Linked DNA regions of Homo sapiens. The protein of the gene in region 4 purifies or fractionates together with the protein of the main gene of each other region. This does not show direct contact. Each region holds a gene or a part of one and is shown on either strand. Other genes may lie near its edges.

Evidence for each region.
Region 1: the proteins of SLC67A1 (region 4) and C2CD2 purify together in Homo sapiens (affinity purification with mass spectrometry; one large-scale study listed by BioGRID and IntAct). This does not show direct contact.
Region 2: the proteins of SLC67A1 (region 4) and EXOC6 purify together in Homo sapiens (affinity purification with mass spectrometry; one large-scale study listed by BioGRID and IntAct). This does not show direct contact.
Region 3: the proteins of SLC67A1 (region 4) and ARFGEF3 purify together in Homo sapiens (affinity purification with mass spectrometry; one large-scale study listed by BioGRID and IntAct). This does not show direct contact.
Region 5: the proteins of SLC67A1 (region 4) and CACHD1 purify together in Homo sapiens (affinity purification with mass spectrometry; one large-scale study listed by BioGRID and IntAct). This does not show direct contact.
Region 6: the proteins of SLC67A1 (region 4) and ATL2 purify together in Homo sapiens (affinity purification with mass spectrometry; one large-scale study listed by BioGRID and IntAct). This does not show direct contact.
Region 7: the proteins of SLC67A1 (region 4) and TM9SF3 purify together in Homo sapiens (affinity purification with mass spectrometry; one large-scale study listed by BioGRID and IntAct). This does not show direct contact.

The regions. Positions count from the first base shown.
Region 1 is NC_000021.9:41,884,612-41,888,018, forward strand, and holds the end of C2CD2 (C2 domain-containing protein 2), read right to left. Parts: 3' UTR 501-3,407; downstream 1-500.
Region 2 is NC_000010.11:92,953,020-92,956,519, forward strand, and holds part of EXOC6 (exocyst complex component 6), read left to right. Parts: intron 1-1,610; coding exon 1,611-1,722; intron 1,723-2,560; coding exon 2,561-2,695; intron 2,696-3,500. UniProt on the Homo sapiens protein: Component of the exocyst complex involved in the docking of exocytic vesicles with fusion sites on the plasma membrane.
Region 3 is NC_000006.12:138,262,939-138,266,438, reverse strand, and holds part of ARFGEF3 (brefeldin A-inhibited guanine nucleotide-exchange protein 3), read right to left. Parts: coding exon 2,828-3,500; intron 1-2,827. UniProt on the Homo sapiens protein: Participates in the regulation of systemic glucose homeostasis, where it negatively regulates insulin granule biogenesis in pancreatic islet beta cells. Also regulates glucagon granule production in pancreatic alpha cells.
Region 4 is NC_000011.10:2,919,278-2,922,511, reverse strand, and holds part of SLC67A1 (solute carrier family 67 member A1), read right to left. Parts: intron 3,206-3,234; coding exon 3,105-3,205; intron 2,796-3,104; coding exon of another isoform or gene 2,754-2,795; exon of another isoform or gene 722-2,753; intron 411-721; coding exon 309-410; intron 77-308; coding exon 1-76. UniProt on the Homo sapiens protein: May act as a transporter of organic cations based on a proton efflux antiport mechanism. May play a role in the transport of chloroquine and quinidine-related compounds in kidney. Plays a role in the regulation of lipid metabolism.
Region 5 is NC_000001.11:64,669,129-64,672,628, forward strand, and holds part of CACHD1 (VWFA and cache domain-containing protein 1 isoform 1 precursor), read left to right. Parts: intron 1-2,435; coding exon 2,436-2,558; intron 2,559-3,500. UniProt on the Homo sapiens protein: May regulate voltage-dependent calcium channels.
Region 6 is NC_000002.12:38,307,774-38,311,273, forward strand, and holds part of ATL2 (atlastin-2), read right to left. Parts: intron 2,675-3,500; coding exon 2,536-2,674; intron 1,734-2,535; coding exon 1,606-1,733; intron 1-1,605. UniProt on the Homo sapiens protein: Atlastin-2 (ATL2) is a membrane-anchored GTPase that mediates the GTP-dependent fusion of endoplasmic reticulum (ER) membranes, maintaining the continuous ER network. It facilitates the formation of three-way junctions where ER tubules intersect.
Region 7 is NC_000010.11:96,584,213-96,588,359, forward strand, and holds the start of TM9SF3 (transmembrane 9 superfamily member 3 precursor), read right to left. Parts: upstream 2,801-4,147; 5' UTR 2,624-2,800; coding exon 2,522-2,623; intron 2,497-2,521; exon of another isoform or gene 2,099-2,496; coding exon of another isoform or gene 1,943-2,098; intron 1-1,942.

The DNA.
Region 1 (3,407 bases), on a different chromosome or scaffold from region 4:
GGAGCAGAAAACCTGGAACCCAGCTGGGAAGCATCGGGCTCCCTCTAAGGGTCTACACGGTGTCTAGCGAGCGGGCGGGACAGCTGAGAGGAGGGGTGGGCAGTGTGGGGACAGGAGGCTGGGCCTGTCCAGTAGCTTTCTCCAGGACACCAGCTCTCCACGTGCTCTGCTGTCTGGGCACCGCAGGGGGAATGAAGACTGAGGGAGACCACGGGAACTGATGACTAGAAAGAAGGCACGATGCCTGCATGGGGCCCGCAGGACACGTCTGTGACCCGACTCGACCGCCTCCCTCCCAGAACCACCGTGAGCCCCAGGCAAGTGCCGACGCTGTTCCACCTGTGGCTGAGCCAGGTACCTGTCCCCTCTGCATGCACCCGGGCCACCCACCGGGGTGGGGAATGGACAGTGAAGTCCAAGGATGACCTGATGAAAGGGGCGCTCAGAGAAGACCCTGGGACTTCCAGGACAGAACAGGACTCGGGAAAAACAACTCAGTGTAGTGTTCTGTGTGCACATTTATTTCTTTCAAAGATTGTTTGTGTTCCAGCCACATCTTCTCCAAAGGAACCCACCCAAGCCCGTGTGCAGGCTTGCTGCAGGGCTGTCTTCGGCGTTTAAAGTGCTACTGAGGAATACAATCATTGTCACGTAAGTTCATCACCGCACTCCAGCGTCAGGCCAAACCTTTCCGTGGACCTGGAAAACCTGCCACTTTCTTCTCTTTTTACAATGCAGTTTCGACATAACATTGGTAGAGTAAACAACAAACCACAAGCCTAAATGATGAATGGTGCGCTGCTGCCCAGCTGCTAACTGAGAGAACGAGGCAGTGTATTGTGTTTCGAATGCAAACGGTCATGGACCCAAGTTAACCTGAGTTTGCTCTGCAGGATTCCGCGGGGGCCTTGCCCTGTGCAGGCTGCTTTGGTCTTCGTGTCTAGGCCGGTTTGGGGCAGTGGGGAGAGGGCCTGGCAGCAGGGTTTACGCCAGCCCCGAGGTCTGTTTTCCGTCAGACAGAGATACGTGTCCTGCCTTCCACCATCCACCAATTTGTACTCTGAAGTTTCCAGATCAAGAGCCGTGAGATTACTACCCAGGAAACACCTGCCTTCGGTGGCCAGCAGTGTAAATTAATCTTTCCCTCTCTGCTCAAAGCAACTTTGCAACTCTCGTCTATAGAGGTGGCCAGTAAAACCCAAGCAAAAATCTAAACGGGCACCAGGTGGCCACTGAGTGGCGACTGGTCGAGTAGCAGTTGGTCATAAGGGATCAGGGCTGGTTTTGAACTCAGACTTGAAACTTGACGAAAATAAAGTGCTCTGTCAAAACTCTCACAGCAGGTTTTCAGCTGGAACAAGGAGATGGCTACTTTTTGTTATTGCTACAATAACACACGCGTGTGTGCAAACACACATAACACACACACACACTTAAAGCTCCATTTCACTCCTCCACAAAGAACAGAGGCACCTCCTTAAACAAAGCAAACGGGGAAGGGTTGCAAGCTCATTAAAACCAACATGAGCACCCAGTTCCAGAGATACAGACACAATTAATCTTAGTGTTCATGAGGAATTGTTTTTAAAACACAACTGGGCAAAACTTTCATCCAGACAAAAGCCAAAAACAAAAGCCCTCAAGCCACAAAAGCTTGTAGAAGAGGTGAGGCGATAAAGGTGATTTACACATCAGTATTTTTAGCATTTGGTGGATAATCTTAATTTATCTTTAACCTTCACAACATTTACTTTGTCATAAATACCCTACACCATGAAAAAACAAACCTGTATAAAACAGCTTGGAAAACAAACATTCACAGTATCAATACAGCCCATTTCTCACGGTGCTACCCTGAAGCTAGCCGACGTGTTGCCTTTGCCTTTGCTTCATAAACTCCCTCCCATGTTGGTGTTTTCTGTAACTTCAGAAAAGGCCATTGGATGGAGACAACGTGTGCGTGTCTACAGGAAGCAGAGCCCTAGACCTTGGTATTCAACAGTAAGCAGCGCTCATGGGATTCATCTGGAAATGGAATAGTTAAAACCTTTTTTTTTTTTTGAGAGCAAGAAGGCTTAATATAAAATCCTGGGGCCGGCCTGGTGGCTCATGCCTATAATCCCAGCACGCTGGGAGGCCAAGGTGGGTGGATCACCTGAGGTCAGGAGTTCGAGACCAGCCTGACCAACATGGTGAGACTCCATTTCTACTAAATAGAATTAGCCAGGTGTGGTGGCGCGTGCCTGTAATCCCAGCTACTTGGGAGGCTGAGGCAGGAGAATCGCTTGAACCAGGAGGTGGAGGTTGCAGTAAGCTGCCATTGCACTCCAGCCTGGGCAACAGAGTGAAACTCCATCTCGAAAAAAAAATTTTTTAAATAAAAAAAAACTTCTGATATCCTTGCACTTGAATAGAGTGCACCTGAATTCCAAAATCAAATAAAAAAGAACAATTAAAAACTTCTCATCAGTGTCTGAAATTCTGACACATAATATCCTCTTGGAATTCTTAAATATGTCTCAGCCTCTTTTTACCACATGGCAAAGAGCAGTAAAACTTCAAGTAAAACATTAAAGTGAACATCTGTCCCATCTGTCCCAAAAGACTAACAGTGATGCCTGACTTTGGGGACAGAAACTTGGTAGTATTCACATGTTTTGAAACTCCAGGTGCTTTTTTTACAATGATTAAAACTGGAATATAATTTTTAAAAACAAAGCAGGTTGGAAAAGTCATTTTAAAGTCACTTGATAATTCCTGGAACACCTAAGAAGTTTGTAATGCGCATTTTAAAGTGAAATTCCTAATGTCGTTTTCTAATCTCTCTCTCTAAAAAAGAAGAAAAAAAAATCCTATAATTTTGGTTTTTATACAGGTTTTTACTAAAAAAGAAAAAAATCCTATAATTTTGGTTTTCATATAGGTTTTTACTAAAAAAGAAAAAATCCTATAATTTTGGTTTTTATATAGGTTTTTACTAAAAAAGAAAAAAATCCTATAATTTTGGTTTTGATACCGGTTTTTACTAAAAAAGAAAAAATCCTATAATTTTGGTTTTTATATAGGTTTTTACTCACCAGTGGCTCTATTACCCCCGAAATATTTAATGTTTAAGGATTAACAAGAGGCTACGGAAGGAAGCTTGCCCATTTCCGTCTCCATGACAGAAGCCAAGCTTTCGTAACAGCCTTTTACATGTCTTTGGAGAAAAGTGAATCATATTAAACTGTCAAGAACACTTCACCCCAATGATGACTGCTCTTTGACCAGCATGTCTACTGGAAGTGGCACATTCAGAAGTGAGATCTGTGAATGAACTGAAATAGAAAGGCAACTGATGAGGAAAGCGACTGGAATGATATTAGGGATATTCAAATGGTGTGCCAGGTTTGTGATGTTTTCCACCA
Region 2 (3,500 bases), on a different chromosome or scaffold from region 4:
CCAATAATGGGACTGCTGGGTTGAATGGTAGTTCTTTGTGTTTGTTTTTGTTTTTGCTTTTGTTTTTATTTTGTTTTGAGACAGGAACTCACTCTGTTGCCCAGGCTGGAATGAAGTGGCACAATTATGGCTCACTGCAGCCTCGATCTCCTGGGCTCAAGTGATCCTTCCACCTCAGCCTCCCAAGTAGCTGGAACCACAGGTTCGCGCCACTGCTCTTTGCCAATTTTTGTATTTTTAGTGGAGATGAGGTTGTGCCATGTTGGTCAGGCTGGTTTTGAACTCTTGGCCTCAAGCAATCCACCCACCTCAGCCTCCCAAAGTGCTGAGATTACAGGCACAATCCACTGCGCCTGGCCCACAGATTTTTAAAAGTAGTATTTTAATAAAAAGTAAAAGGATGCAAAAATGTTAGCCTGTATCTAAGGCAGTAGTTCTCAACTGGGGATAATTTTGGTTCTCCTGCCACCACCTCCTCCCCACAAATTTGGCAATGTCTAGAAACATCTTTGGTTGTTACAGTTCAGGGGAGAGGTGCTACTTGAAACTAGTGGATAGAGGCCAAACATCCAAATGTGCAGGACAGTCTCCACGACAAAGAATTATCCACCCTAAAATGTCAATAGTGCCGAGATGGATAATCCATGGTCTACAGACAGTTTAACTGTTGTGATAATGAGGCTGTATCCAAGAAATCATTATTTACTTAAATTGAAGACCGAATGGTTAGGAGAAGAGAATTTGTTTTTTAGTGCTAGCTTAGTAATACTTAGGATGTTAAGAAACATCATATTAAAATTAGTTTAAGGTAATTTATTTCTTTGAAGACTTAAAAAATCAATGAAAATGGATAACTTAGTTATATTAAAAATTAAATTTGTTTATTATATCTAGAAAGAGCTCATATCAGTTTGTATTTTAAAAATAATTTTTAGCTATAGTTGTGTATGAAGTTTCTTTCAAAGTGACTGTCTTTTGGGGCTGGGCGCGGTGCCTGACGTCTGTAATCCCAGCACTTTGGGAGGCCAAGGTGGGAGAATTACTTGAGTCCAGGAGTTTGAGACCAGCCTGGGCAACATAGTGCAACCCTGTTTCTATAAAATATTTGAAACTAGCTGGGCATGGTGGCATGCATCTGTAGTCCCAGCTACTCAGAATGTTGAAGTGTGAGAATTGCTTGGGTCCAGGACTTTGGGGCTACAGTGAGCTATAATTGCACCACTGTACTCCAGCCTGGGTGACAAAGTGAGACCCTGGCTCAAAAACAATAATAAAAATAATAAAACAACAAAGTTACTATCCCATGATGGAGTCGGAATTTAGGAATAATTTTGTTTCCTTATACCAAGTCCTCTATGATTTTTCTGTGGTTGTTAATTGGATAAATTTAAATTATGCCATATATGAATATTCTACTTTATGGAAAATGTCCCTTTTGCAAAGTTAAATTGAAGTTTGTGATTTAATAAATATGGGTCTTTGTAGTTTATTTAAAGATATAAAATAATGATGGGGAAAATTATTTTAGTAAACTGTGTTAAATTATTTAGGATGTTAACTAACCACATTCATTATTTATTAAGTTTAATAATATCAATCTTTGTTTTTAGCTCAACAGAAATAGACGATATGCTTAGAAAATCAACAAATCTGCTGCTGACCAGAACTTTGAGTAGCTGTTTACTGAACCTTATTAGAAAACCTCATATAGGTTTGACAGAGGTAGGTTAAAAAGACACATATAGTGAAATGTTTCATTGTATGAAACAATTATTTTAAATTATTGCTGAACGTCATTCTGTAAAACTAGCTTCCTGTTTTAAATGTATTAATATAAGCAGATTTGTTTTCAAAATAAAAACACCAGTGTAAATTCCAGAAATGTGAGGATCCCAGGCACAGTGGCTCATACCTCTAATCCGAGAGCTTTGGGAGGCCAAGGCAGGAGGATTGTTTGAGGTCAGGAGTTTGAGACCAGCCTGGGCAATATAGTGAGACCCTGTTTCTACAAAAAATGAAGACTATTAGCCAGGCGTGGTAGTGTGCAACTATATTCCTAGCTACTCTGGACTTGAGCCCAGGAGGTTGAGGCTGCAGTGAGTTACAATCATACCACTGCACTACACAGCCTGGGTGACAGCAAGACCCTGTCTCTGGAAGAAAAAATAAAAAAATGAGGGAAAAGGGTTCATATGGGGAATAGTAGATAAAGATGTTAGAATATCTATTTAGATTTCTGATTGCCAGACTACAGGAAAAGTCACAATCCTAATTTTTTACTTGCTAAATGTTTAAGATTTGAAACATACTATGAAAAGTTATTTTAAAATAACTGGTATTTAGACTCTTGGTGTGTGTGTGTGTGTGTGTATATATATATATATATAAATTCATACGCAGTATTTGCAACAGGCTTTTAAAATCAGATAGTTGTATCCTATAATGCTGCAATTATGTAGAAATGGTACAGTTGCTGGAAGTAATAATCCCATTTTTAAAAATTAGGTGATTTTACATACATGTAACCTGTATTTTACTAGATATATCTTGTGTTTTCTAGCTGGTACAAATCATCATAAACACAACACACCTGGAGCAAGCTTGTAAATATCTTGAGGACTTTATAACTAACATTACAAATATTTCCCAAGAAACTGTTCATACTACAAGACTTTATGGACTTTCTACTTTCAAGGTATGTAAAAATTTGACCAAAAGTTTTCATTTCAGTCACTGTAAGCAGACGTTAAGAAATTAAAGACCGTTCTTATATATGCAAGATCTACTATATTCCTAAAAATTAAGAATAGAGGTATTCATTGTCAACAATGAGCAAGTAAATGTCAGTTTCTTTTTGGCACTGTAAACATCTTATTAACATGGAGAAAAGTATACTTATTTTCTACAGTGTATTATGCTTTGTTCATGTTTTGATGATTTATAGTAGTGCTGACTAGGTCTAACTGAATTAATATTTCACAGTTTAAAAATTAATTCTATATGAGTGTTTATTTTTGAAAATTTAAAATGTAAGACAAATTAAAAAAGGATAGATTTGTTTTCCATCCTTGATTGGTTCTGATCTGAAGAAAAATAAATATTATTACATGTCATTGAAGTCCTACCTCTTTTGCGGGTGGAAAGATTTCTGTTTGAATAATATACAGAATATACTGAGGATTAATTAATGGTTGTTTTAGGTAGAATGTAAGATTAAACAATTTCATAAGGTATTTTATTATTTGGAGTCATAGATGAGACACTGGCTTAGTCTAGTGTGTATAAATCCCCTTGAATTGAATATTTTATTAAACTAATGATAAACCATGTACTGATCACTTATCTGTAAAATGGGCTTGCTAATTTAACCTTACAGCTCTTTCTAAAAGTTTCCTATTAAAAAGAATTCTCTTTAACTACTTTTGTTATATTATCAATCACCCCCAAGATTTTATTGTAGTAACTTGCATTGTAAAAAATGAATGTACTTGTGTTTTAAA
Region 3 (3,500 bases), on a different chromosome or scaffold from region 4:
AGTGAGGCCTCATCTCTTCTTTATTTCCTTCTTTCCAACACAGTGAGACCCTTTCCCTTCTCCTTTCCCTTTTCCCTTCCGTTTTCCCTTCCCTTCTGCCTTCCCTTCTTTCTCTCTGCCTTGCCTTGCCCTGCCCTGCCCTGCCCTCCCTTGCCTTCCCTTCCCTTCCTTTCCTTTCTTCTCTTTCTCTTTCTTTTGTTTCTTCTCTTTCTCTCTTTCTCTTTCTTTGACAGGGTCTTGCTCGGTTGCCCAGGCTGAAGGGCAGTGGTGGAAACATGGCTAACTGGAGCCTCAACCTCCCAGGCCCAAGTGATCCCCCCGCCTCAGCCTCCCAAGTGGCTGGGACAAAGGTGCACTACCATGCTTGGCTAATTTTTGTATTTTTTGTAGAGAAAGGTTCTCCCTATGTTGCCTAGGCTGGTCTCAAACTCCTGAGCTCAAGCAATCCACCCGTCTCAGCCTCCTAAAGTGCTGGGATGGCAGGTGTGAGCCATCATGCCTGGCCAATACCCTGTATCTATAAAATTAAAAAAAAAATTGCTGGGTGTGGTGGTGCGTATAGTCTCAGCTACTTGGGAGGCTGAGCCACTGCACTTCAGCCTGGGCAACAGAGTCAGACCCTGTTACAAAATAAAAGAGAGAGAGACCGAAGTACAACTTCATCAATTTACAATCAATAAATATTTATTGAGAATAAGCTGTACATATCTTGGGACCTTAGCATATAGCACAATTCGGCTTCTCTATAAATGTTGGTTGAAGGAGGATTTGGGTGGGTGTGTCTGAGAGAGAGAGAGACAAAAAGACAGACAGACAGACACAAACATGCACAAAACACACCCCTAGAATGTTCAATAAGAGAATGTCAAATTTAATGACAGTGATATAAAAGATCTTAGGGAGAAAAATAATTTTTTAGGAAGAGTATACATTTTCCTAGTCTTCCAATAAAACGTGAATTTTGTTACACACACAAATAAAAAAATCCAAAATTTGTTATATTTAACTCCAAAAGAAAAAATATTGAGGAAAAAAATATGTTAGGTAGCCTTAAAAATTGATGTGAAATTAGGAAATAAGGTATGAAATTCTTAGGAAATAAGAATTAGGAAAGTTGAGAAATCATGTCTCTTTACATCCTTTTCTAGGTCATGTGAAAATTTCTGGAGTAAAAATTCTGTGTCTCCTTTGGTGCTTGCTACAACTTTGGATAATTCTCTTATTAAAAAATGTTCCAGCCGGGCGCAGTGGCTCATGCCTGTAATCCCAGCACTTTGGGAGGCCAAGGCGGGCGGATCACAAGGTCAGGAGATCGAGACCATCCTGGCTAACACAGCGAAACCCTGTCTCTACTAAAAATACAAAAAATTAGCCCGGTGTGGTGGTGGGCGCCTGTAGTCCCAGCTACTTGGGAGGCTGAGGCAGGAGAATGGCATGAACCCGGGAGGCGGAGCTTGCAGTGAGCCGAGATTGCACCACTGGACTCCAGCCTGGGTGACAGAGTGAGACTTTCTCTCAGAAAAAAAAAAAAAAAAGGAAAAAAAAATTTGTTCCTTCTTATATATACAGAGATTTAAGTGTCTTTTTCTTGTCCTCTTGAAAAAGGACAATTTGGTCAGCTTCTTAAAGATACTTGTTAAGTTACACATCAGTCAGCTTCTAACCAAGTTCCAGTAACTGGGCTACAATTTTTTCATGTATGTGTGTGAAGTTTTGTTAGAAAATAAAAAGGAAGTGAGACAAGGTCTCAGCCCTCAAAGAGCAGGGAGTCTAGAGAGGGGAGGGTAGAAGGGATGGTGGATGCATTAACACATGACTGTGATAAATGCACCAAGCACAATGACAAACACAAGTTCAAGGTTAAGTGGTAGAAGAGCAAGTGGTGATCATGGCTTTTTAGCAGTTCTGTGTCAGTTCCCAGGGTCAGCCCTTTGGATCTGAGCACAGGCTTAGGGAGATTCATTTGCCCCAGTATTCTGTGGTCAAGAGACCCTTGTACTTGAGGGAAAGGCACAGATGACCTCCCTGGTACCATACCAACATTTATTCCCACCATAAATTTTATGTACCCATTAATTTATTTCTTTCTGTATTATCTTTCAAGAACACTATCTTAAAAATAATTATTTACTATGTGAAATGCTACTACTTCCCTGTATTCTTTATCTGCTTCCTCCACCAAAACTCTAAGTGATTCTCTTCTGCCCTTCAATAATACCAGCATTATTTTCTGATGTGATTTGCCCACTATTCCCCCCAGCACCACTGTTTACGGTCTGAGTCACAATTCAACAGATGGAAGGATCTGAGATGGGAGAATGCAACGTTACCAAGCTATACTAGACTATCACACATTGTTCGAATGTTCACTAGAATTCAGAATATATTGGGAGGACTTGGCGTGCAACTGATCCAAGACAGCATTCAAAATTGTTTACATTTTGATACACCAAAAGTACATTGCTCTATGAATTTTAGACACCAAGACATAGAAGCATACTGGGAATTCAATGTTTTAAGAATTACAGATTGTCATCTTGTTTCAATCAGTAGCACCTTTCTAGAATGCAGCTACTTCTCATTCTTTACTTTACATCCTATACATTTATCAGCCTCATAGTATATTCCAGCCATCGACTGCTGTAGAATTCAAATAAACCACCACTAATAGGTCTTAGATTTCTTCGCCCTCTTTAAACTGGGGAAACCCAAAGATACATTAATATGCTTTGAGCACGTCAAACTATAAGCATGATAGTAATTGCCCATTAAGGCAAACTGCTCTGAATAATCTTGTTGACTATACAGCAGAGAATTGTTTACAAACCTGAGCAGAAAGTAGAGGCAAAGTTCTGCAGAGCGGTGTCCACCTCCTCTACATTGGAGAGAGACAGGAGCCGAGGGAGGAGGCCTTCCAGGGACTGTATGAACAGCCTGGCGCTGTGCTGATCCGCCTCCTGGTTCTTCAGCAGTTTTAGAGACAGGGCGGCAGTTCGCAGGGACCGGTGGCCTAGGCAGTCCCGGGGTGTCTGCTCTTCATCGGCTAGTGAACAGTTGTCCGACCCAATGTCTGACACGTCGGACCTGCCCGAGTCCTTTTCTGCTGCCATAGAGTACTGATCACAGGAATCAAACTCTGTCCTAGAAAGGTCTTGGTCATCAACGCTAAAATTGCTCTCACTATACCTAGATCCATAGGACCTTGTCCTGCAGTCTACTGACAGGAAGTTAGTTATGTCAGGGTAAGGGACCGTGTGGCTTCTCTGCACGACATCTGGCTGGTCTACCGCCTCTGTTTCCAATACTTTGCTCAGCGTCTCCTTACCCTCTGGGATGGCTGGCGACTTGAGACTGTTCTTGTGGTTTCCCGAATGGTCCTCGGGTGTAGTCTGACCCAACTCTCCCTCGAGAGTGGTCTGGCCTGTGTCTGTGGTGACACTGATGCTGATGTCAAGGCTCCTCTCGTTCCCTGACTCCCACGGCGTGTGTTCTGAGGACAG
Region 4 (3,234 bases):
CCACGTTGAGGGTGCAGAGGCTGAACACCAGGCCGGGCACCAGGAGGCAGAAGTGGAAGACGCTGGACATCCAGGCCTGGGACGGCAGGCGGGGGCCGAGCTGAGTGGGGGCCTCACGGGACCAGGCTCCTCTCTGGGGTCTTACCTGTCCCTCCCCACCCTGACTGCTGTCCCTGCTGAAGAGCTGGCCCCGGGTGGGTGTGGGGGGCTGGAGGAGTCCCCAAGGGCTTAAGCACAGATGGTACCGCCCAGGTGGCCTTGCCCAGTGAGAGGGTCAGGTGAGTGGGCCCAAAGCGGGGAGCCCTCACCATGGCCAGGCCCACCACGATGAAGACCAGCACGCTGGCCCGGAGCAGCACCTCCTCCGAGAAGTGGCTGCTCAGCTGCCCGATGACCAGGCCCTGGGTCACCTAGAGCCAGACAGAGAGGGTAGAAGTGGGTATGGGGGAGGCGAGGGAGGGGCGTCTGGACTGTGGCCAGCCCCCAAAGCTGGGGACCTCCAGACTGGCCTGTGGTGGCCAGGGCCCCTCTGCAGAGAAGGCCCCTCAGCATCTGCAAGCCCCGGGGTCTCTCCCTACTCCGCCAGCAGTGACTGCGTCAGGATGGGTCTGAGATCCCTGAGGAGTCGGGGCTCCTCTCCACAAGGGAGGAAGGAAAGGCCCACACCAGGGACACCGGGGATGGGCTCGGTGGGACAGGCTCGGCCGCAGGCTGCTCCCGGGGATGGGCTCGGTGGGACAGGCTCGGCCGCAGGCTGCTCCCGGGGATGGGCTCGGTGGGACAGGCTCGGCCGCAGGCTGCTCCCGGGGATGGGCTCGGTGGGACAGGCTCGGCCGCAGGCTGCTCCCGGGGATGGGCTCGGTGGGACAGGCTCGGCCGCAGGCTGCTCCCGGGGATGGGCTCGGTGGGACAGGCTCGGCCGCAGGCTGCTCCCGGGGATGGGCTCGGTGGGACAGGCTTGGCCGCAGGCTGCTCCCAGGCCAGGGCGAGGCTCTCTATCTGGTCATCTCAGCTCCTCCACTAAGCAGGGCGTGCTGGGCCAACGCGCCTGGGAGTGCAGGGGTGGCCCCGGCTGGAGGAGCCCCTGGGCTCAGTATCTGCCCACAGGGCAGGCCCAGCCTGCAGCACCTCTGCAGGGGACCAGTCACCCTCCCAAATTCCTGCCAGGCAGAACAGAAACTGCTTCCAACCGGAACCATAAATGGTTTAAAAATCTTACTTTCACACTTGCTTTATCTTAGGGTTTTTTGGGATTTTAACACCTTTTTTTTTTTTTTTTTTGAGATGGCGTCTCGCTCTGTCGCCCAGCGTGGACTGCAGTGGCGCGATCTCGGCTCACTGCAAGCTCCGCCTCCCGGGTTCACGCCATTCTCCTGCGTCAGCCTCCCGAGTAGCTGGGACTACAGGTGCCTGCCACCAGGCCCGGCTAATTTTTTTTTTTTTTTTTGTATTTTTGGTAGAGACGGGGTTTCACCATGTTCGCCAGGATGGTCTCAATCTCCTGACCTTGGGATCCGCCCGCCTCGGTCTCCCAAAGTGCTGGGATTACAGGCGTGAGCCACCGCGCCCGGCCTAACACGTTTCTTAAAGGAAGAGCTGGCAAGCTCACTTCGTGCAGTGCGTCTAAGAGGGGCTCACAGTGAGTGCCGTGAAGGACTTCAGATCCAGGACTCAGACACCAAGGTCAGAAGCCTATTTGTGTTGCGTCTCAGTTTGCCCATTAAGTTTAAAAAAGCTTGAACTTAGGAGCCCTGCAGGTTGTGACATGAACCTGGAGCTAACAAGCTTGTCCCTGACCGGACTTGGGGTCTGGGGGCTACTCTGCGGGCCCCCTCCTTCCCCTCCTCAGCCTCCTCTCCCGCTGCTCAACCTGTGTCGGGGTCCCCATGCCTCACCCTGCTCCTTCCCCGTCCCTGGGCAGTTCACCAGGCCCAGTTCCTGCGAGGGTGCCCCGACGGTGTTGGTCACCACCCCAGCTCTGTCTGTCTCAGGCAGGGTCCCCACTGCAGCCATGGCAGGCCCAAGTCCCCCACAACACAGGCCAATGACTGCTGTGTCCAGCCCAGCTGCAGGCTTCAGCCAGGGCCTGGCTAAGCGTCCTTCCTCGCAGTGAGCTGGGCGCAGCCTGTTCAGAACAGGCCCCATGGCAACAACCCCGGATTGTTACTATTATTGTTGCTGTTGTTTTTCTGTTTATCTCTTTTTACCCTGCCAGGGTGGCCCCTCCTGCCCCAAAAAGCAGAGGCCCTCTCTGCCCACGGTGGGGGTCCAGCCCCTCCCAGGAGCAGCTATTTTAGCACTAGTCTAGTCCTGGGCCCAGAGGCTGAAGAGCAGATGGCTTGGAGGTGCCAGGAATGCCACAGGCTTCCGGAGAGGCCGAGAGCCCCCACCCCCACCCTGGCGGGTCCCAGAATAGCCCCCCCGCCCCGCACTCTGGCTGTCAGGCAGCCATCCTGGGTGGTGGCAAATCATCACCTGTCCCCACCACCCAGGGTCTGGTCCAGAAGCCCAGAGGAGCTGGTGGTGGAGGTGTCTCGCCCCGGCCCGGGAGCTGAGCGGTTCTGGGGGGCTGGCAGACAGACACCTGCCGCATCGGAGCTGCCAGGGTTTCAGGGCATCCTTCCATGACAGTGTGGCCTCTGAGGGCTGGCGTCTTATCCTACCATGACAGCGTGGCCTCTGAGGGCTGGCGTCTTGCTCCTATGGGACCTCCAAAGGGGCCCACGCTGGTCTAACCACTTTGCCACGTTAGGTCATCTCATCTGCCAAGGACCCTGCAAGGCGGGCACTTTGGCCTCATGGGACAGATTTGGAGAGTTTGGGAGACTTGCTCTGGTCACACAGCTGGTGGGCAGGTGGGCTGCCACAGATCCCAGCCAGCTGCCCATCAGAGGCCGGAGTCCACTGTCCTCACAGCGTGCCCACCACTGCAGTTGGCTCTCCCTCCCTGGCCTGTATGCCTGGTTCCCTGTGGACCCTGACATGTGCCAGATGGGAGGCCAAGGGCTCCCCAGCCTCCGCCGGGGAGGAGCCTCTACTCTCAGAGGCCTGCCCCACTGGAGACCCCTGCCGTGCCCCCCAGCAGGCCCTGTGTGCCCACTCACCATCTGGAGGAGCCCGAAGAAGGACATGAGGTAGCCAGCTTGGGCGGCCTCCAGCTGGAAGAAGTCCATGGAGATGATGGAGAACATGACCATGAAGAGCCCTGAGCCGGGGCAGGGGAACAGGGGTGAG
Region 5 (3,500 bases), on a different chromosome or scaffold from region 4:
CTGGTAAGGGCTCAATAAATGTTAAGCACTTTTATAATAATGTTTTGTGACCTCGCTGACTTCATATGTAAAACAGAGGCTGTAATACCTGCATTGAACTGATAGGATGAGAATTAGAGATGATGCATGCATGTCAAGTGCTTAGTACTGTACTTAAGAGGTCGAGTCCCAAATAAATGGCAGTTATTTTTATCATGCTATTTTTGTTTTAAAGTTCTGACATTTTAGCAGGTCAGAAGAGAAAGCTTAAGCTAATCTTCAGCTTGTCATGAAGCAGTCCCATGAACTCAGTTTTCAGTGGTTTGGCTGAGAATTAGAGGCATTTTCTAATTCAACACTCACTTATCAGTTACTCATAGTAAGCTTTCTTGTGATTCTTTCATACACATTTTTAGTGCCCTGAGAATCTGGGTTTGCATTCTTTGGAGAAGGGTGGTGCTGCTAGAGATGAAGTACAATCATTGAGTAAAGGACTGGTTAGATGTGTCTTTGGCTGTGAAAATCTCACGGAAGTATTGCAAACAGCCTGGTCTGTTGTACTTAGAAATATAGGTTTGGTGTGATTTTTTTTTTTCCAGTATCATTCTTTATGAGTTGCTATGGTAACAGTGTACCCATCTGAAATGCAGGTGAAAATATGAATCCTAGATTTATGTAGGCAATATACGTGCTGTTGCTTTAGCATGTTTATCATTTTGAAGCAGATGGCAGTTATACAAGAGAAGTTTAGAAATAAAATTACCTTATACCAAAACACCTAAGTGCTATTTTTCACCGAGGTAGCTGTAGGGTTGTAGAAAGAGCCAGGTGTGGGTACTGGTCTAATCTATCTTATGTGTTTTTGCCCTTCTCAGCCTAATCTTCTATTTATAAAATGGGAACTATGATTCCTTTATGGCTTTTTCACAGATAGTTAAATAGTGTAAAGTTGCTTGGAAACGCTTGAATGCTCTGCAGATCTAAGAAGGCAGTACAACTTCATGGTATATGCTTTGGAGTTGAAGACACTAAGTTTAAAGCCCTGCTTCCACCAGCCCATTGTTGTGTGTCTGTAGTCCCAGCTACTTGAGACTGGGGCAGGAGGATCACTTGAGCCCCCAGGAGCTTGAATCTAGCCTGGGCAACATAGCAAGACCCCATCTCTTACAAAAATGATAAATACATTTCTGCTTCTACTAGTTATTCACTATGTGACCTTGGCCAAATAACTAATTTCCCCAAGCTTTAGTTTTCTGGAAATTATAATGCCTTTTAAGATTGCTATGAGAAATAATTAAGGTTTTTGTGATTAAAGAAATTAGGCAGGTGGGTGATGCTAAATAATAGGCTCTTAGAAAGTCCTATGTTGGGTAAACTGCAAATTCTCAGCCACAAGAGTATGGGGAGTTCGTTGGTCAAGTAGCACATGCCCTCCCAGTTACCCATGAGCATAGATTAAAAACAGCCAAGGTTCCAAGTGAGAAGTCCACACTTCTGACACACCTAGCAATTTCTTGAAGTGCGTTTTCTCTGAAAGAGTAATAAGTTTATTGTCAACTCATGCCTGAGGGCTCAACTTCACTGTTTAGTTTTCTTTAGCTTAGCTTCTATTTTTTTAGGTGTTCACTGTAAATACACCATCTCATTTAATCCCAATAACAGCCTTATAAAGTAGGTACTATTATTGAATCCATTTTCAGGTGAGAAAACTGAAACTTAGAAAGGTGAAACAGCATTCCATAAGCCACATATATAGAAAGCAACAGGGCCAAGATTTGACTTCAGATCTGCTGATTCCAGAGCCAAACAAGTTAGCACCGTGTTTTACTGCCCAATTTTCTCTTCCTTGGCTGTTGAGAGTAGCAGGGTGGAATGGAGAAAGCACTGGCCTATGGACCAGGAGAGTCTTGTTCTAGAATATGAGCTGTGCTCTGAGTAGAGTCAACCTTAATGTTGTGGGAAAAAAACTGGACTAGACATTGTTCCTCCTAAGTTTTGTATGACCTTAGCCACTCAGTTAACCTTTGTGAGATCTCAGTTTTCTTATCTAAAAAATGAAGTAAATAATAAGGGTGTTGCTAAGGGGGATTTTTTTTTTATCTAGAGGTTTGTTGGAAGTAACTGTAGTAGTCATGCATCCAACCTCCCACCTGATGCCTCTGTGCCCATATTTTTGTCAGTCGAGCCACTCTCTGAACGTCATATTTCACAGCTGCTCAGGTTTTGGGCCACTCTTATTTATACAGTCCTACATTAAGTCTTAAATTTTTTTCTCTCATAAAATTTCCATGTTGTGTTAAATCAGTCACTTAGTTGATCATTTTTGTAGGTGGGAAAAGTAGGGAGGAACAGTGGGAAGGTATTTCTAATACCAAACAATGTCCCTGTGACTGAACATAGCTTTTATCCTTAAATAAGCCATGCCTATTGTTCTCATTGATCTTTTTCACTTAAAGTACACAGCTGTCTTCTGGGCACACTGTGGCTGTGATGGGCATTGACTTCACACTCAGATACTTCTACAAAGTTCTGATGGACCTATTACCTGTCTGTAACCAAGATGGTGGCAACAAAATAAGGTAAGTGCTTTGGGGATGCTATTTCCTTTCTAGCTGCAGTTTAAAAATAGATGTCAGGTATCTCTAGTTGAATGGGAACCGCATAGTTATGGTCAGGAATAGAAATCTAATTTATGGCCTGGGTGTCCTATTAAGAAGGTTTTTGTTCTTTTTCTCTTCTTTCGTTTTTCTGAGATGCATACTGTTTATGATTTAGACAGACTCAGCACACAACAAGAAAAATAACTGTAGCATGGAATGCACCAAAAGCTCTTGTTTCCCTGGAAGTCAGTAATTAGAGGCTTCCCATATCTTTGGTACTAGAAAGACCAGAGAGGACTCTTGGGTAGGACTTTTGATGTTAACTTTGTCATTAAACCAAAGTCTTTGTGACATTTTCAGCTGCTTAGACTGTTCCTTTTACATTTCCCCAGAAAGAGACCATGGAACCAAAAGTCTCTGCCTCCTGAATTTCAAAAGAACTTGTCTGATCAAAGCAAGGGCATACCCTTGATTTAATGCAGGCTGCTTTTAAAAATAGCTTTCTTAGTTCCACCTCATGGTTCATGCTTCGTGTCATTGGCCCTTATGGGGAAATGCAGAATTCCTGGCAAACTGATATCACTAATGTAAAGTAAAATAAAGCAAAATATAGTCTTGATTAAAGCAGTTCTAGCTTCATTTATTGTTTCTATCAAATATAGATCAAATATAGTAGTCCCCCTCTTATCTTTGGTCTCGCTTTGTGAGGGTTCAGTTACCCATAGCATAATACAATAAGATATTTTTATAGAGACAGAAAGACCACATTCACATAACTTTTATTACTGTTATAATTGTTCTATTTTATTATTAGTTAATGTTGTTAATCTCTTACTGGGCCTAATTTATAAATTAAACTATCACAGGTAGATATATATAGGGAAAAACCTGTATATGTAAGGTTCAGTACTATCATCACTT
Region 6 (3,500 bases), on a different chromosome or scaffold from region 4:
TCAAATGATCTGATCAAAAAACGGGCAAAAGATCTGAACAGACATTTCTCAAAAGGAGACAAACAAATGGGATACAGGATATGAAAACATCACTGATCATCAGAGAAATGCAAATCAAAACTACAGAAAGATATCATCTTTCTCCATTTAAAATTGTTTTTATCCAAAAGACAGGCAATAACAAATGTTGGCAAGGATGTAGAGAAAAGGGAATCTTCGTACACTGTTGGCAGAAAGGTAAATTAGTACAACCACTATGGAGAACAGTTTGGGGGTTCCTCAAAAGACTAAAAATAAAACGACCATATGATCCAGCAATGCTGCTGCTAGGTATATACCCAAAAGAAAAAAATCAGTATATAGAAGATACATCTGCACTTTCATGTTTACTGCAGCACTAGTCACTACAGCTACAATTTGGAAGCAACCTGTGTCTATCAATATACGAATGGATAAAGAAATGTGGTACATATACACGATGAAGTACTACTCATCCATATAAAAGAATGAGATCCTGTCATTTCCAACAACATGGTGGAACTGGAGGACTTTATGTTAAGTGAAATAAGCCAGACACAGAAAAAACAAACTTCACATGTTCTCACTTATTTGTGGGAGCTAAAAATTTAAACAACTGAACTCATGCGATAGAGAGTACTAGAAAGATGGTTACTAGAGTCTAGGAAAGGTAGTCAGAGGGTGGAGGGGAGGCAGAGATGGTTAATGGGTACAAAAATATAGTTAGAATAAGATCTAGTATTTGATAGCATAACAATGTAGTTACAGTCAATAATAACTTACTATACATTTTAAAATAACAAAGAGTATAATTGGATTGTCTGTAACATAAGGAAGGGATACAGGCTTGAGGTGATGGACACCCTATTTACTCTAATATGATTATTAGACATTGTATGCCTGTATCAAAAATATCTCATGTACCCCATAAGTATATATACTACGTACCCACAAAAATTAAAAATTAAAAGTAAAAATAAATTTTAAAAAATTCATTCATAACTAAACAAAGATAATATGAGAGTAACTATCAAGTATCCAATAAGTGAACAAAATACACTCTTAGTTAAAACTACTACAAATAATACAACCTTCCACAGCGGTCTTGTTCTGGCAGGCAAGCTATAAAGACTAGAGAAGAACAGAGGGAAAAAAAAAAAACCTAAGAGTACTTTACTTGAACCAATATAAATACTTTCAGCTGTTCTTATCAAGTCCTCAGAACTCTGAGGGAGTGTTTTTGTGAGAACTTAGGATGTAAAATTATGCTTTCCATTCCTATTATCATTCACTAATGACAGAGTAGTATTAGAGTATGATGAATGGCTTGTTCTCTCCATATCTGAGATGGAGAAAAAGTAAGATAATTCTGTAAATAAATTAAATCACTGTCTAGGAGACAGAAATCTGCTATAATCTTTTAAATATCCTTAAATACAGATACATCTAATTCAAGGCAGAAAGATAAATCACAAATCTTACTCTTTTTTGTTTTAAAATAAAGACAAGAAATTTCTTATACATACAGATGAGTTTTAAGTCAACTACATTTCTATCTTAGACAAAACTGTTTAAGAGCTCACCTACCTTAAAATATTCTACAAGATCTCTACAAGTGACTTTAGATCCACTTATCTCTTTTTCTACCAAATTTTCAGGGGCAAGCAGCAATGGAACCAGATTTCGAAGCTCTCGTTTAAAGTCTTCATCAATATCTAGAAAACAAAAAATTGAGCAACATATTAGTCCAAAAAAAATTAGGTCCCCACTGGTACGATTTCATAAAATTCTGTTTTATGAAATAAGAATACATAGTATCTATTACTGAAGTGGATTCATTTTTTAAAAAAAAGCTCATCCAACATGCCATATCTCATAGGAAAAAATATAATCCCCCTTACTCTACTAGCCCATTTTCCCCAACCCCCTAGTAACACTGCCAGTTCAAATAACAAATAAAACATCAATAAATTTGTGGACTACCAAGACAAATTTCACATTTAGTATTAACGAAAATGTCCTTTTCAAGAGGCAAACAATTCATAAAATTGTATTAAATTTTACTACTAGATTATGTTTTACCAGCCATACTGTAAAAGTTTTGTCAATCCCCAAATGTTTTGCCAACACACTCAAAATAATCCTACAACATACATAAACTGTACTATCACTCCTGAAACAGACACTTATATCTGATTTCATCAATATAATAAAATGATAAAGCCTTTTAGCAGACTGCAATCAATTGAAAAGAAATGCTCTCAGCCTTCAGAATTTTCAGGACATCACTGCTGAGCAACAGACATTATAAAATAGGTTAATCAATATGCTAGACAGCTGCAAACAAATCAATGGAATGCTAGAGAAACAACACAGAGCATTACAACCACAACATGAACAATGCATCCAAACATTCTCCAGTATAAGACAGGACATTTAAGGCGTCATGTATTTTCTTAAAAAACTTTCCACCTCTAATAAATAAGTTCAGATTTTAGCAAGAATGGGAATTCCCACCTTTCAATCTCCCATCAAAACTAGGATTAGTTGCAACTTTAAGACCAGGATGTGGCAAAAGGAAGCAACCAAGATTTGAGAAACAATTGTGTATGTGCTTCCTTACATTCTGAAGCTCTTCATGTTGATTTTGTTTTACCTGAGGGCGGAGAGAGACAGGTGAAATTGTAAACAGAAGAAAGAAAATTTTTTTAAAGAAAATGCACACAGACTCGCATGCACACTATGCACACTTAACTCAGATGGTACTCCTAAGGAGTCTTTTTTGACAATACAAAAAATTATGAAGGCCCATTTCTGACCACTTTGTTAAGACCCCACTTTTTTTTTTTTTTTTTTTTTTTTAAAGACAGAGTTTCGCTCTTGTTGCCCAGGCTGGAGTGCAATGGTGCAATCTCGGCTCACCGCAACCTCCGCCTCCCAGGTTCAAGTGATTCTCCTGCCTCAGCCTCCCGAGTAGCTGGGATTACAGGCGTGCACCACCATGCCCGGCTAATTTTGTATTTTTAGTAGAGACAGGGTTGGTCAGGCTGATCTTGAACTTCCAACCTCAGGTAATCCACCCGCCTCGGCCTCCCAAAGTGCTGGGATTACAGGCATGAGCCACCGCACCCAGCCAACCCCACATTTTCTTAAACCACAAAAGATGTTTTTCCCAAGTAAGCTGCCTGGAACAGCAAAAACTACAAATAAGGTAGTTAATCACAGTATCTAATAACCAAATAACAAATTATGGCTGTGACTTATACACCAGTAAATAAATTAAGAATTTACCTTTAAAGTACTTACAACAGCAACAAAACAGAACAAAACAAAAAAAAAAGTATAAATTTGCCTACAAATAAAAAGTTTAGCCCCTGAACAAAGTAAAAGCTAAGATAAAAAAAATTACAGTGCAGTACAAAGACCTTAGAAATGTGTTAGAATTTCAGGTCCCTCTCTACATGATTATTTATGATTTATGC
Region 7 (4,147 bases), on a different chromosome or scaffold from region 4:
CAGCAACTTCCCCACACCAATGTCTCCTCTTCCTTTAGTATTATTCTCTCTTTACTAGCTACTTCTGCTTCTTTGACAGAAAAAAATAAATAAAACTCACTTGACATTAGCCTTTTCGGTACTACTATCTGGCTAAGAGGAATAGGAATGCCTAGTTTTTGAGAAATATTTTCAAGAAATTTAGAAAAAGCAAAAGATTTTGGCTAACAGTGAAAAAATAATATAAATGACATTTGAATTTTATGCTTATTTTTAGATGCTATTCTTCCCATAACTGTTTTTGTTTTTGTTTTGCTTTTTACAATACATATTCGGCCAGGCGTGGTGGCTCATGCCTGTAATCCCAGCACTTTGTGGGGCCAAGGCAGGCAGATCACTTGAGGCCAGTCGTTTTGAGTTCAAGACCAGCCGGGCCAACATGGCGAAATCCCCTTTCTACTAAAAATACAAAAATTAGCTAAGTGTGGTGGCGCACACCTGTAATCCCAGCTACTTGGCTAAGGCACGAGAATCGCTTGAGCCCGCAAGGCTGAGGTTGCAGTGATGTGAGACAGCACCACTGCACTCCAGCCTGGGCAACAGAGTGGGACTCTGTCTCAAAAATAAATAAATAAATAATAGGTATTTAATAATGGGTAACCAAGTAAGAGCAGTTCAATATAGACATGAAGTAATATGGATTCTAAATTTTTTGTCTAGCAACCATCTCATATATACCATATTATCTTTCGTGGCAGTCAACAAAAACCTTTTATCAAATATCTTATATGCAATTACTAGAATAAAAAACTGAAATAGTCCTAGCAATAAAACTGCATTGAAATTACACTTTTAATTTGTAAATTATTCTAAAGCCTTTATATACACCCAATTTGTAAAATTTTAATGGTTTCCCTAATCACAGCAGTGTAAGTCACAAGATTACAAGATTAAAAAGTAGAATACAGTACACTTTTGAGCTTATATGCCTGTATCACGGAACTACACATTGAGAGTTCTGAGTTTCATATGGTAACTTTTCCTAAGTGTTTTTTTAATTGGAAATATATTAGTAATAATATCATTAAACAGAAGGATGGATGCCCACTGAAAATTTAAAAATACTCAAAGACCCAAATCTATACATGGTCCCTGTATACTATGTGAAACAATAGCAGTTCTTAAACTTTGAGACAGCTTATCTGATGAAAGAACACAAAAGGAAATCGTTTTAAGCTGTTTAACCTCCCAACAAAATTATCTTAGGTGAAACACCACAAGTACAGTACAAAAACATGTCACCAATTCGAGATTTGTGTCTCTAAAGAAATACATACCTACACAGGTAAGAAGTTTCTGGCTGTGACCGAAGGTAGAACAGTCAAAAGTTTAGAGCTTTTATTAGCTAAAATAAGATCCCAGCTAGCCAAGGATCCAGCGAAAAGTTTTGTTGATTACAAATAAAATCGGATCCATTAAATAGGTAAGGACGACTGCTTCATTTCCTCACTTACCAGAAATGACATAAGACTCCCTCAGATCGTTCTGATTTAGTACAAACACAGTCTCTCATAGAAACTCCTATCATTAATGGTAAAGGTATAAAAAACAATTACTCGTCAAGCAAACTCTCAATTTACCTGACCTTCCTGCCTTGCTCAAGTCTACCACTCTGAAAACCACAGTTACAGCCCTAAGTGAAAGCCATTTGAAGAGTCGTTCACATGCACGTTTTGATGTGAGAATACCAATTAAACAAACTGCCAATCACCTTTAGGCCAAATGCAAAAGGGACTGTTTCTGGCCCTGACCTGAAGACTGGGAAACGTCAAGACCCTTTACTGTCAGAAGCTGCCTTAGTTAGAGACTATCGGGATGGGGGTCTCACTTAGGGGCTGGAAGGTGAGGAGAAAGTTACAAGAAAGGCCTAGGAATTGAACGCGTGTAGGTTGGGTGCACTTACAAGTAAGTATAAACTGCTCTTCAATTCAAGTTTATTAATGCTGCCCCACCCCAGGGTTTTAATCCGGTCTGGGCAGAAGCGGGCGATAAAAGCCAAAGGAGACCATAAAGTGTAGGATATTTCCTGGTTAGTGGCTGCCGGGTAATCACGATGCATCCATCTTCCTCGGCGTCGCAGCCCTCAGTAGCCAGAAGGCAGTCTCCTTCCCTGGGGGGCAAAAGCCCCGAGCCCAGCCTGCCCGTTGCCCCGCTCCCGCGGTGGATGAACCTCAACCCTTCCCAGGCTCCTTCCTGGCCCCAGGGTCCCAGGAACCCCGAGACCCTGGGGTGCGGCGCCACTGAGGCCCAGACCGGGGGAAGGAGACCCTGTCACTCGGGAGCGGAGCCCTGTCCCGGGAGCGCACGGAAATGCCTCCTCCACGCTCCCAAGGTTCCTGCTCCGCCAGGCCCAACCGGAAGGAGTCCTCGGGCCGCAGTGGGGCACCACCGGGCCGCCGGGCACTCCAGGCTGCGTGGGGCCTGCCTCAGTGGGCAACTGGGGAGCTAGCCCGGGGCGGCCGCGCCGGCCGGGGCGCCTCACCGTGTGTTCGTGCTCGTCCGCCCGGGTCCGGGGCAGCAGCAGCAGCAGCAGCCACAGCGCGGCGGCCGCCGCCACGCCAAGAGCGCCAGGCAGCGGCCTCATCCTCCGCGCCCCTCCGGCCCGGAGCCGGCTCACCGACTCCTCCTCCCGCCGCCGCCTCCTCCGCCGCCGCCGCCTCCGCCGCGGCCGATTCGCATCCACGGGGCGCGGACAGACGCACGGGGCCCGGCCCAGCCGCTGCCTCCTCTGCCGCCGCCGTCGCCGTCACCGCCCGCTCCTGAGCCTCCCCCGCCCCCCGCGCCTCCTCAGCCTCTTCCTCTGACTCAGCCACGTCATCCGGCCACCCCGGCACGCGCCGGAAGTGCCTCGCGACGCGGGGCCGCCACCGCCGCCGGGCCGAGGGAGGGCCCGGCAACCGCCGCCTGCGCGCCGGCTGCCCCTCGGCTCCTGGGAGCCGCGGCGCTACGGGCCTGCCGAGCACTCGGGCGGGCGCCGAGCAGGCTGGGCCCCGGCGCAGTGGCCTAGCCTGGACCGCAAGGCCGAAGCCGCCTCCGGGCCGCGTCCCGGTGTTTCGGGTTGTGTAACCTTGGCCAAAATGCTTAAGCTTTTTTCCTGGCTGCCAAATGGGGCCGATCGTCTGACCTGCTGCCTCCGGAACTTGAGGGATCAGATCAAATAACCCTTTCCTGGCGCTCGTCTGCCGCTGTGAATGAATCACGGGCTCCTGTAATCACCGTTAGGAGAGATTGTTAAACTCGTACAGGGTTGGATGTTTTAAAGTTACTGAATATTTACTGGACCCCTACTGTTCAATCAAGACATGCTAAGTTAGCTTGCCATTCTTGTTCATTTATGTGTTTACTTAACTATTTCTGGGTCTCCTCTTCCCAGTCATAAATATCTCTTGGAGTGTAAGCTCCTCGGAGCAGAGATCCTGTTTCCGTATTTCCTGTACCTAGAACAGTGCCAGATCCGTAGTAGACACTGAAACAAAAAATCTTTAAAAAAAAAAAAATATACGAATGTGGCACCACCATTTACACAGGCCACTAAGCCAAAAATCTCGAACTTGTCAGATTGTCTCTTCTCAGCCATCAGCAGTCAACAAGTTCTAGCATTTGGTCTCTTAAAAGTGGTTCAAGAGTTTATTTTTCCTCTCCTTCCTCTGCCAGTACCAACCAGTCTTCCGTATCACTATGTATTGCAAGAGTCTCACAAGAAGATATCCATCACTGACTGATCTTCCTCCCGTTTAACATCCCCAACAGGTGCCAGGGTGATGTTTTTTTTATTCTAAAAAGAAACCAGATTATATCGCTCACTCCCTTGCTTAAAACAGTTCTTCAATGTTAGGTAAATAAATCATGGAGTCACCACGAGGGCGTTCATCTGCCAGGCACTATTCTGAACGATATTGGCTCATTAAATTCTCACAGAAACCCTATGCAGCAGGTACGGTGAAAATGTTCCTGTTACAGATGAGGTAACTGAAGCACAGAGAGCTTGAGTGGCTTGCTGAAACACCAGACCCACTCAGTCTGGCTCCATAATAGGTCTTTTTGCTGGTAATGATTTACCAACTATACAGCCACTTTAAAAAAAGGAAATAGGTAAGTACTGGCATGG